Linked DNA regions of Homo sapiens: region 2 is linked to region 1. The links come from fine-mapping of genetic effects on plasma protein levels. Region 1 holds a variant in brackets. A gene starts in the other region. All regions are shown on one strand. Distances are between the middles of the regions.

What was found. PIP is the chance, under the fine-mapping model, that this variant and not a neighbour inherited with it causes the effect. Protein levels are from antibody-based Olink assays in UK Biobank. Linkage for the fine-mapping came from a reference panel and not from the study's own genotypes, which makes the PIPs less certain.
Region 2: it holds the start of CD160, and the variant in region 1 is fine-mapped to the plasma level of the CD160 protein (UK Biobank, PIP above 0.99).

What each region holds. Positions count from the first base shown.
Region 1 is chr1:120,107,537-120,111,927 of GRCh38, forward strand. No RefSeq gene overlaps it. Among named protein-coding and RNA genes, the nearest start is that of NOTCH2, 40 kb to the left of the region's middle. The variant T/C (reference allele first, on the strand shown) is at 1,952.
Region 2 is chr1:145,717,304-145,721,694 of GRCh38, forward strand. It overlaps CD160 (CD160 molecule), which reads left to right and starts at 2,196. Exons shown (of 6, transcript NM_007053.4): 1 at 2,196-2,256.

The sequences.
Region 1 (4,391 bases):
AGGATATGGGGATTATCCATTACTGTATCACAACCCGGCTAAAACTGACTGATACAACTCCTTTGAGGATTATAAACACAGTCTTTGAAGCTAATGCATGATGATATGAAAATCAGTGTTGATGATGTGACACGCAGTGTTTTCCAACAAAGTAAGAAAGTTCAGTATGCTGCCAGGCATCACAGATGCGCCACACGTGCATCGGGTACCAAGGGTGTTCTGTTCGTCAAAGTTCTGTTTGACAAAATAAAACTTTTATCATTTTGAAAATGTCATTAGCTACAGGAGTTTTCAAAAGGGGCCAACAAAATTAAACTTTAAAAATCTGTTTGGTGTGTACATAACACACAAAACAAGAGCTGACTGCACTGAAAGATACCAGGGATTCATAGAGTTGTATGCTGAAAGGAAATGGCATTTCTGTGAGTTTATTTATGACCTACTTCAATATATTGGAAGAAATGTCAGCAATTTGGAGGTTGGTAACGTAATTTAACAGAAAAACAGCTTCAATTTTCTAACTCTACCACAAACCCCAAATCAGCCTGACCATTTCTAGGGCACACATCTGCTTTGCTTGGTAACAATAGCAGCAGCAACAATAAGTAATGACAAATGATCACATATAAGGAACCATGTTAATGTATCACTAGATATTAAACAGGGCATTACTTTACTGGTATATGTGTCCAATTTGAATAAACAAATTAGTATATGTGTCAAATTTGGATCCAGCAGGGCACTTCAAAACTTAAGTAATCATGACTCAACTCTAAATACTCAATTTTAAAGTAGTTTCTAAACTTCAGCATATTGACATTCCGGGCCAGATAATTCTTTTTTGAGGAACTCTTCTGTGTAGGATGTTTAGCAGTATCCCTGGCCTAACCCGTTAGATGCCAGTAGCACCCCACATTTGTGACAACCAAAAATGTCTCTAGACATTGCCAAAAGTCCCTTGGGTGACTTCGTGCTCTAAAGCTATGAATCTAGTGGGAAGAAATTAGAAACCAGAATACTACATAGAAAATATTTTTGAGTAGACAGGACTATTGATTCATCTAATTAGTTCAGGTAGTTAGCTGATCATTTTTCTTGTAATTCAAACAAACCCTTCCCCAATTCTTAGTAATAGCTGTTGATTGAGTGCCGATTGTGGACAGTAAACATAATTTGCATAGTCAATATAGCTTGGAGATTAAACACTCGGCTCTGTAGTCTGGGTTGCAATCCTGGCTCTGCCATCTGCTCTCTGTGTAACCTGGGGTATGTTTCTTTACCTCTCTGCCATTGTTCCTCAACTGTACAATGAAATAATGATAGCATGCATGAAATCATACAGGCATGTTGTGAGAATTTAATAAGTCAATGAACATAAGGTGCTTAGAACCAAGCTTAGGGTATGGAAAACAGAGAATAGATGTTTCTTGTTATTCTTAAACCTTACAACAACCGTTCAAGTTAGGCAGCATTATCTGCATTTTATACATGTGGAAGCAAATATTCAGGGAAATCAAGTCCCAAATACACAACTGCTAAATCACTTGGTTAACAAGAAGAGGAATCAGATTCAAACTCCAAAACTGCCATGTTTCTCACTACACGGCAGGCTTGGGTGGAAAACAGGTTAAACCTGGGAGAAAGAGTCCTCTTTTAGGGATAAAAATTGGGATTGTTCAGCTGGTGTGGTGTGTTTGCATGGGGTAGCACAAAGCCCCCGTGAACATGACTTTTACCACTATCTGTGTGAATTTGGCAAGCGTCTCGAACATCCTGGGGCTGTTTACTCATCTGCAAAATGGACACAAAAACACCTGCTCTGCGATCTTCACGGGTGGTGGTCAGAGTCATGTGAAAAGATGCAGGCAGTAGAGCGCTGTGAAACTCTAAAGTGCTCAGCAAATGTGAGGTAGGCTGGGTGCCCTGGTTCACGCCTTTAATCCCAGCACTT[T/C]GGGAAGCCGAGGCGGGCGAATCACTTGAGGTCAGGAGTTCCAGATCAGCCAGGCCAACATGGTAAAACCCAATTTCCACTAAAAATACAAAAATTAGCCGGGCGTGGGGGTGCGTGCCTGTAATCCCTACTCGGGAGGCTGAGTCAGGAGAATTGCTTGAACCTGGGAGACGGAGGTTGCAGTGAGCAGAGTTCGCACCACTGCACTCCAGCCTGGGCGACAGAGAGAAACTCCATCTAAAAAAAAAAAAAAAGGTAAGGTGGAAATATAAGCCTGGGCTCTCGGGTAGTCATGTCTAAGACCTTTCAATCCCTTAGTCATGTCTTGCTTCTCCCGCAAAAGCAAGTTTTTCTGTGGCCCCATGTCGCCATCCTGGCCTCAGGGGCAGCTGACCTTGCTGGGGAGGCACCATGTGCAAGTGGGCGGGGATGGGGGCTTCTCCCCTGGTTCCAGGGTGGGCAGACTGGGAGGTGACCCCAACATGGATGTGGCAGCTGCTGCTTATCTGTAGTTAGTCAACGGCCCAGACAGATGAGGTGTCCGTGGTGACCTTCCTGCCTCAGTGAGTGTGGGAACTCGGGGCTTCCCAGGGCGAAGGAGTGGGAACATAAACAAAATGGGCCCTGCCGGAGCTCGGGCATCGCATCCTCCCTCAGCCCTGCCTGAACCTCGGAGGAGGCGCCCAGGAGATCATCCAGGCACCGCTGCCTAGGGCCGCGCAGGGAAGACGGCCAGGGCTCCAGGGTCCGCCTCAGTCACTGTCACCCCGCAACATGATTCTGACTCCCCCAAAGGTGGGTGCTTCCTGCCAAAAGTCCCACCACCGGCACCCTTTGTTGTCAGAGGGCAGAGTCAGAAATATGTCATCCTGGTGGAAACTCTCCCTCCCTCCCTCTCCCCTCAGCAGATTTAGCCCTGGATTCCATGGACTGCTGCAGGGGTTAGTCTTCTGGAGAGAGCAGGGCCCCTGCATCTCTTTCTGACAAAAGACGGCAGACATAAACAAGGGGAAGTTTGAAAGAAAGAGAAACGGCTAATTCTCAGCAACCTTTCATATGTCTGCGGAAGGCTTGGCATCCATGGCCCAGCCTTCTTCAGGATGAGCACCTATGTCTGCTACTCTTTGCATCAAGTGACTTCTCCATGCCTTTCTTGTGTCTTTTTTCTCGCTCCTTTCTGTTGCCTCCTTTATGTTTTCTCACTGCCTAGCTCTTCCCAATAGCACCACCCCGAGTGGTTCTAGGGCAAAATAGTAAAGCATTTTAAATTTGTTTTCATGACTTCCCACCCTTTTTTCAGTCTCGTTCCTTTCCATCTTTAAGGTGGCCAGCAGCTGCTCCGCACTTGACAAACGTGCTGGACACTGCTGCTGGGGAGACATCAGCCGGCAAGCAAGGGAAAGTTGCAGACTTCTCAGTGCTTACCTCCTAGCTGGGAAGACAAATATTGGACAACTATTCTCTAAAGGAGGCATGCAGAGTGCTGTGAGTGCCTGTCAGTAGGTGCAGACAGGGGCTCAGGGAGAGCATCCTGGAAGAAGAGATGTTTGGGTTGAGCCTGGAAGCGTGAATGTTGGGTGAAGTGTTGGGAAGAGAGGTGAAGACAGAGAATAAGACAGGGGAGAAGGAACACATTCTATGTGAAGGTGCTGAGGGAAGATAGAACATTTGAGGAACCAAAAATGAATTGTACAGCTGCCTGTGGTACATAGCCTGGGCCTCACCCTCTCCCCTGAGCACTTGACAATGCACATAAGGTCCCTAAACACTTCTGCCTACTCACCCACCATAAAACCTGTCATGTTTGCTCTCCCTTTAAGGCTCTGTTTTTTTGCCTTCCATAATTGCGATCTCAACTGATAGTTTCCTAAGACAGATTTGGGGTCTGGAAACAGATTCTTAGCTGAATTCTACTACTTCACTGTGCAAACTTGAGGAAGTGAGGTATATCATCAGTAATATGGGCTAATAACTGTGCTAGTAGTAACATTTCATGATTGTTTACACTGCATCAGCTTCCAGTGCTAAGCACTTTTGTCTTTTATTGTATGATTCTCACAAATCCTCATAAGGTAGGTAATGCTTTTATCCCTTTCTCCCTTCTCAAAGGATTCTTAGGAAGCCTAGGTGTGACACTAATTATAGATGCACTTTGTAACCATTAAGGGTTAATGCAAAAAATGAAATATTATTGTGATGTTCAATAATAGTACCATGATGTTCAACAAGTACATATTTAATGAATAACTGCATTTGTTGAATGCCATGACAGTTGTGGGCTATAATTAAATGAGTCTCAAAATATTTTGTGTCTGTCTCCTGAACAAACCAAATAAAAAGCAATAGAAGGAATGAAAAACGTTGTCATCACCAATTTGCTAATTGTATGCCATGCCGGACCACAGAAGAGAGAATTCCACAGATGTGACCCTGAGCCTCC
Region 2 (4,391 bases), 26 Mb after region 1:
GGGACCCAGTATCCTGTGGGCTGTGGTGGACTGGTCCTGTGACCAGGATGATGGTGAGACACTCCTCTTCCCAACATGGGTTCCCAACCCCCAGGCTCCCAGAATGGACTCATTCTGCAGTGAAAGCTAACACTTTGATGGAGTGAAGAAGTATTTCTTTTCTTTTTTCTTTTTTTTTTTTTTTTAGAGACACAGTCTCACTCTGGCATCCAGGCTGGAGTGCAGTGGCGCAATCACGGTTCACTGCAAGCTCCGCCTCCCGGGGGGTCACACCATTCTCCTGCCTCAGCCTCCCCAGTAGCTGGGACTACAGGCACCCACCACCAGGCCCAACTAATTTTTGTATTTTTAGTAGAGACAGGTTTCACTGTGTTAGCCAGGATGGTCTCAATCTCCTGACCTCGTGATCCACCTGCCTCGGCCTCCCAAAGTGCTGGGATTACAGGTGTGAGCCACTGCGCCTGGCTTGGAGTGAAGAAATATTTCTAATATCTGTCTCATTTGACGATGGCTTCAGTGGAGCCATCTGGGAGTTCTCAAACCCCAGAGCACCCTACTGTTTTTAGGACCACAGAGTACTACAATAACAGGAATAAGAAGGAAAAGAGAGTCTCTAGACTAGTTATGAAAAATTTTCCCCCACCCTCCCTCCACCCTTGAATTCCTGGGTAGCCTGGCACTGGGTGGCAATCATGACAGGTGTTCCTCCAGAACCGTGGGGCTTCCTGGTGTGCTGTGCCCTTTGGCACAGGGCCTGGCCCAGCCTTGCAGGACTTAGAGCCCAATGCTTCTAATTCTCAGACTAATGTTCCTGCCATCTAAGGGCACAACCCTAGAATTTAGGAACAATTGTAATCTCCCAAGCCATCACTGACCAAGGAAGAACAGAACAGAATAGAAATGGATGGGAAGCTGGGAGTGGTGGTTCAGGCCTGTAATCCCAGCACTTTGGGAGGCCAAGGCCAGAGGATTGTTTGAGCCCAGGAGTTCAAGAGCAGGCGGGGCAGCATAGGGAGACCTCATCCATACAAATCATTTTTAAAATTATCAACCGAGCGTGGTGGCTCACGCCTGTAATCCCAGCACTTTGGGAGGCCAAGGCAGGCAGATCACTTGAGGTCAGGAGTTTGAGACCAGCCTGGCCAACATGATGAAACTGTCTCTACTAAAAATACAAGAATTAGTCCAGCATGGTGGCAGGCTCTCGTAATCCCAGCTACTCAGAAGGTTGAGGCAGGAGCATCACTTGAGCCCAGGAGGCAGAGGTTACAGTGAGCTGAGATCACGCCACTGTACTCCAGCCTGTGTGACACAGCGAAACTCCATCTCTAAATAAATAAATAAATAAATAAATAAATAAATAAATAAATAATAAATAAATAAAAAGTTATCCAGGTGTGGTGGCGTACACCTGTGGTCCTAGCTGCTTGAGGGGCTGAGGTGGGAAGATCACTCGACCCCAGGAGGTCAAGGTTGCAGTGAGCCATGATTGCCCCACTGCACTCCAGCCTTGGTGACAGAGCAAGACCCTGTCTCAAAAAAAAAAAAAAAAAAAGGAAAGAAAGAAAAAAGAAAAAGAAAAAAAATGGGTGGGTGGGAAGATAAGGTCAGTCATTCATCCTCCCCCCACCACATCAGGACCATTTTGGTGCCCCCACTCGTTGCCTCCCCTGCTCACCACCACCCTCACCCAAGCCTTCTTGACAGCTCCCTGACCTTCTTCCCTTTCAGCCTGGAGCAGCTGTGTTCTCTGTCCTACTTCTAACCAAAACCTACTCTCAGGAGAAGACTTGGTACCTTTCTTTATACTTGAGAGGACATTCTGTCCTTTTATCTTCTAGTTATTCTATCATCAGTCCTTTCCTTATTATGAATTAGCAAATACAAAATCTTTGTTCCCCAGGGTAAAGAAAAGAATTTTAAGAAGTGGTTTTTCTTAGCCCCCTCAGCACCCTAGTCTATTTCTAACACCAAAAAGACAAAACAAGGGAGAGGAAAGGAGAAGGAGATGGAGGACCAGTTGCAGGAGAGAAAGGAGAAAAAAATCCACAGTGGGGGTGGCGGAAGATCTATGACTTCTAACAACCCATTCTGTGGTTTTCAAAGAGCGAATATAATAACAGCTATGAAAGTGTGAGCAATGACGAAACTGGAGAGATAGGGTTTTAACAAGATGCAAGGACAATCTGAGGACTGAGAGCCATTTCAACGTGAGCCCCCAGTCTGAGAACAAGAAAGAAGAACTTCTGTCTCGAGGTAAAAAGGCCTGCTGGGGACCTGGGGTCCAGGTGAAGGGATGGGATGGTTGACAGAACTGCTCAGGTGAGGACAGGCTTCTCATGAGGTCCCTGAGAAACTTGCCTTTTGGAGGGAAATGTCCTCTGCCCTCTGGAGCCTGGGGAGAAGGTTATTTCTGCCCGCCAGACCAGCATGCTCGCTTTTCTTCCATGGGCATTCAGGAATCCTGGCCCCATTCTGACATTCCTCAAATGGAGGAATTCCTCAAATTACCAGAGGAAAGTTACCAAAGTTTAGATCTGCTGGAGCTCTTCAAGGATTGGCCTGAGACAAGCCGGGAGGTGCCACGGGGCTTGGAGCTGGCCCTGTGAGGCACCTCCGGGGGAAGTTCATGTCCTAGGTGGTTCACGTCATGGACCTCTTGGAGGTCCGTGAATAGATTTATTCATGGGATTTGTGAATTGGGGGGAAAAATACATCTTTATTTTCACTAATCTTTAATTGAAAGTCAGCACTTGCTTCAGTTATGAATGTAGACAATGAACCACAATAGAATTTGCCATCAATAGAAAACACAAATATTTTCAAATCTCATTACAGTTTTTATAGATTTCTCCAAATGTCCTTAACGCTCAGCACTACTACAGAATTACAACAGTTATTAGGCTGATGTCAAATCTAAAGAAGCATGTGTACTGCTCTACCACACATTCTTCTAATGTTTTGACAACTGTCTTGTCATAATTTGTTCCCTTTATTATCCCATGTATCTTATTAATTTTTAAATGTTGTTCTGAGAAGGGACTCCATATGCCTTCCCAGACCACCAAAGAGGTCCATGGCGCCTTTATGTCAGGCACCTGCTTTGGTGTGTTGAGCAGGAAGCCTGAGATCTCAGACAAGAGCTTCAAGGGCCCCCCAGCCCAAACCTCTGTCTACTAACAAGTCTGGTTCTACTTTAAGGCAGTTGGGGTTGTGGAGATTGAAAAAGAAGCCCCTTCACAGCTGCAAATGAGATCTTTCTGGGCATCTTTTTCAGTGTCGTGGGAGATCTGTATACAGAGGTATTTGTGGAGCTCAGAGCTGACCTTCCAGCTCCTCTGAGAGGTTAGATCCGGGCTCCGGTGGCAGAGGAAATGGAGACTCTTCCTTGCCCTCTTGTCCCCACCCTCCCCAGAAAACCTCTGGCAAAGCTTTATGTGTCATCTAACCGTCACCACATTCCTATGAGGTAGTTTTAAACACAAGAGGAATGTGAGGCTGAGTGAGGTCCAGCAATGTGCTGGTCACACAAAGCTTGGATTTGAACCCAGGAGTCCACAAGACTCCAGGACCGCCTCCGAAGGTGCGGGAGGGAAGAGTTTCCCGCCGTCTGTGAGCTGTCGCCTGAGAGAGGCACCGAGCCCTGGGGCCACCAGCGCAGCTCAGGAGCCCCGGGGACCATCAAAGATGAGGATGCCAACTCCACGGGCACCCTCCCCCCTGCCCGCGCTGGGGCTCACAACGTTTTAAGAGGGGAGACCCGCCCCTGGCGTGTAGTGGGCCCGGAAAATTCCCAGACTTCTCACGACCACCCGCTCTCCCCTCTGTTGAGGGCCAGGTGCCGCTCTAGTACATGCTGCGTCCCCAGGACCCACCAGGCCCAACTTTGCACCCCCTCATCTCCCCTCCTAGTTTAGACTTTCCCTGGCTAGCCCCCATGCTCGCTGGATGGCCCATGGCTGGAGTGACGCGGGCCAACGCGGGGCAGGTAGGGGGTCACTCGGCTTTGGCTGAAAGGCAGCGCCCTCTAGCGGCCAGAGTGCGAAATCAGCGCCGCCGGCTCCGCGCTGCCCCGCCTGCATCACAACAGGGTGCTCCCCTCCCGGGCACCAAGGTCACTTCCCAGAGCATCCTTGCCCAGTGACCTCGCTGCCCCCCAGCGCTGGTGAGGGGCCCACAACAGACTTACATGCTCTTCTTCAACTCGGCCCTAGGCACCGCGAAGTCTGGCCACTCCAGCGGAGTGACCAGCTGCATCAGCCCCTCCCGCCTGTCCTCTCTCTCCTTGGAAGCGGTCCCTACCCTGCGCCCCTCCCATCCCGCTGCACCAGTCCCTTAGGAAACACGCCTAGAGAAGGGACACGACCTTGTCAACATTCCACAGCTACCTA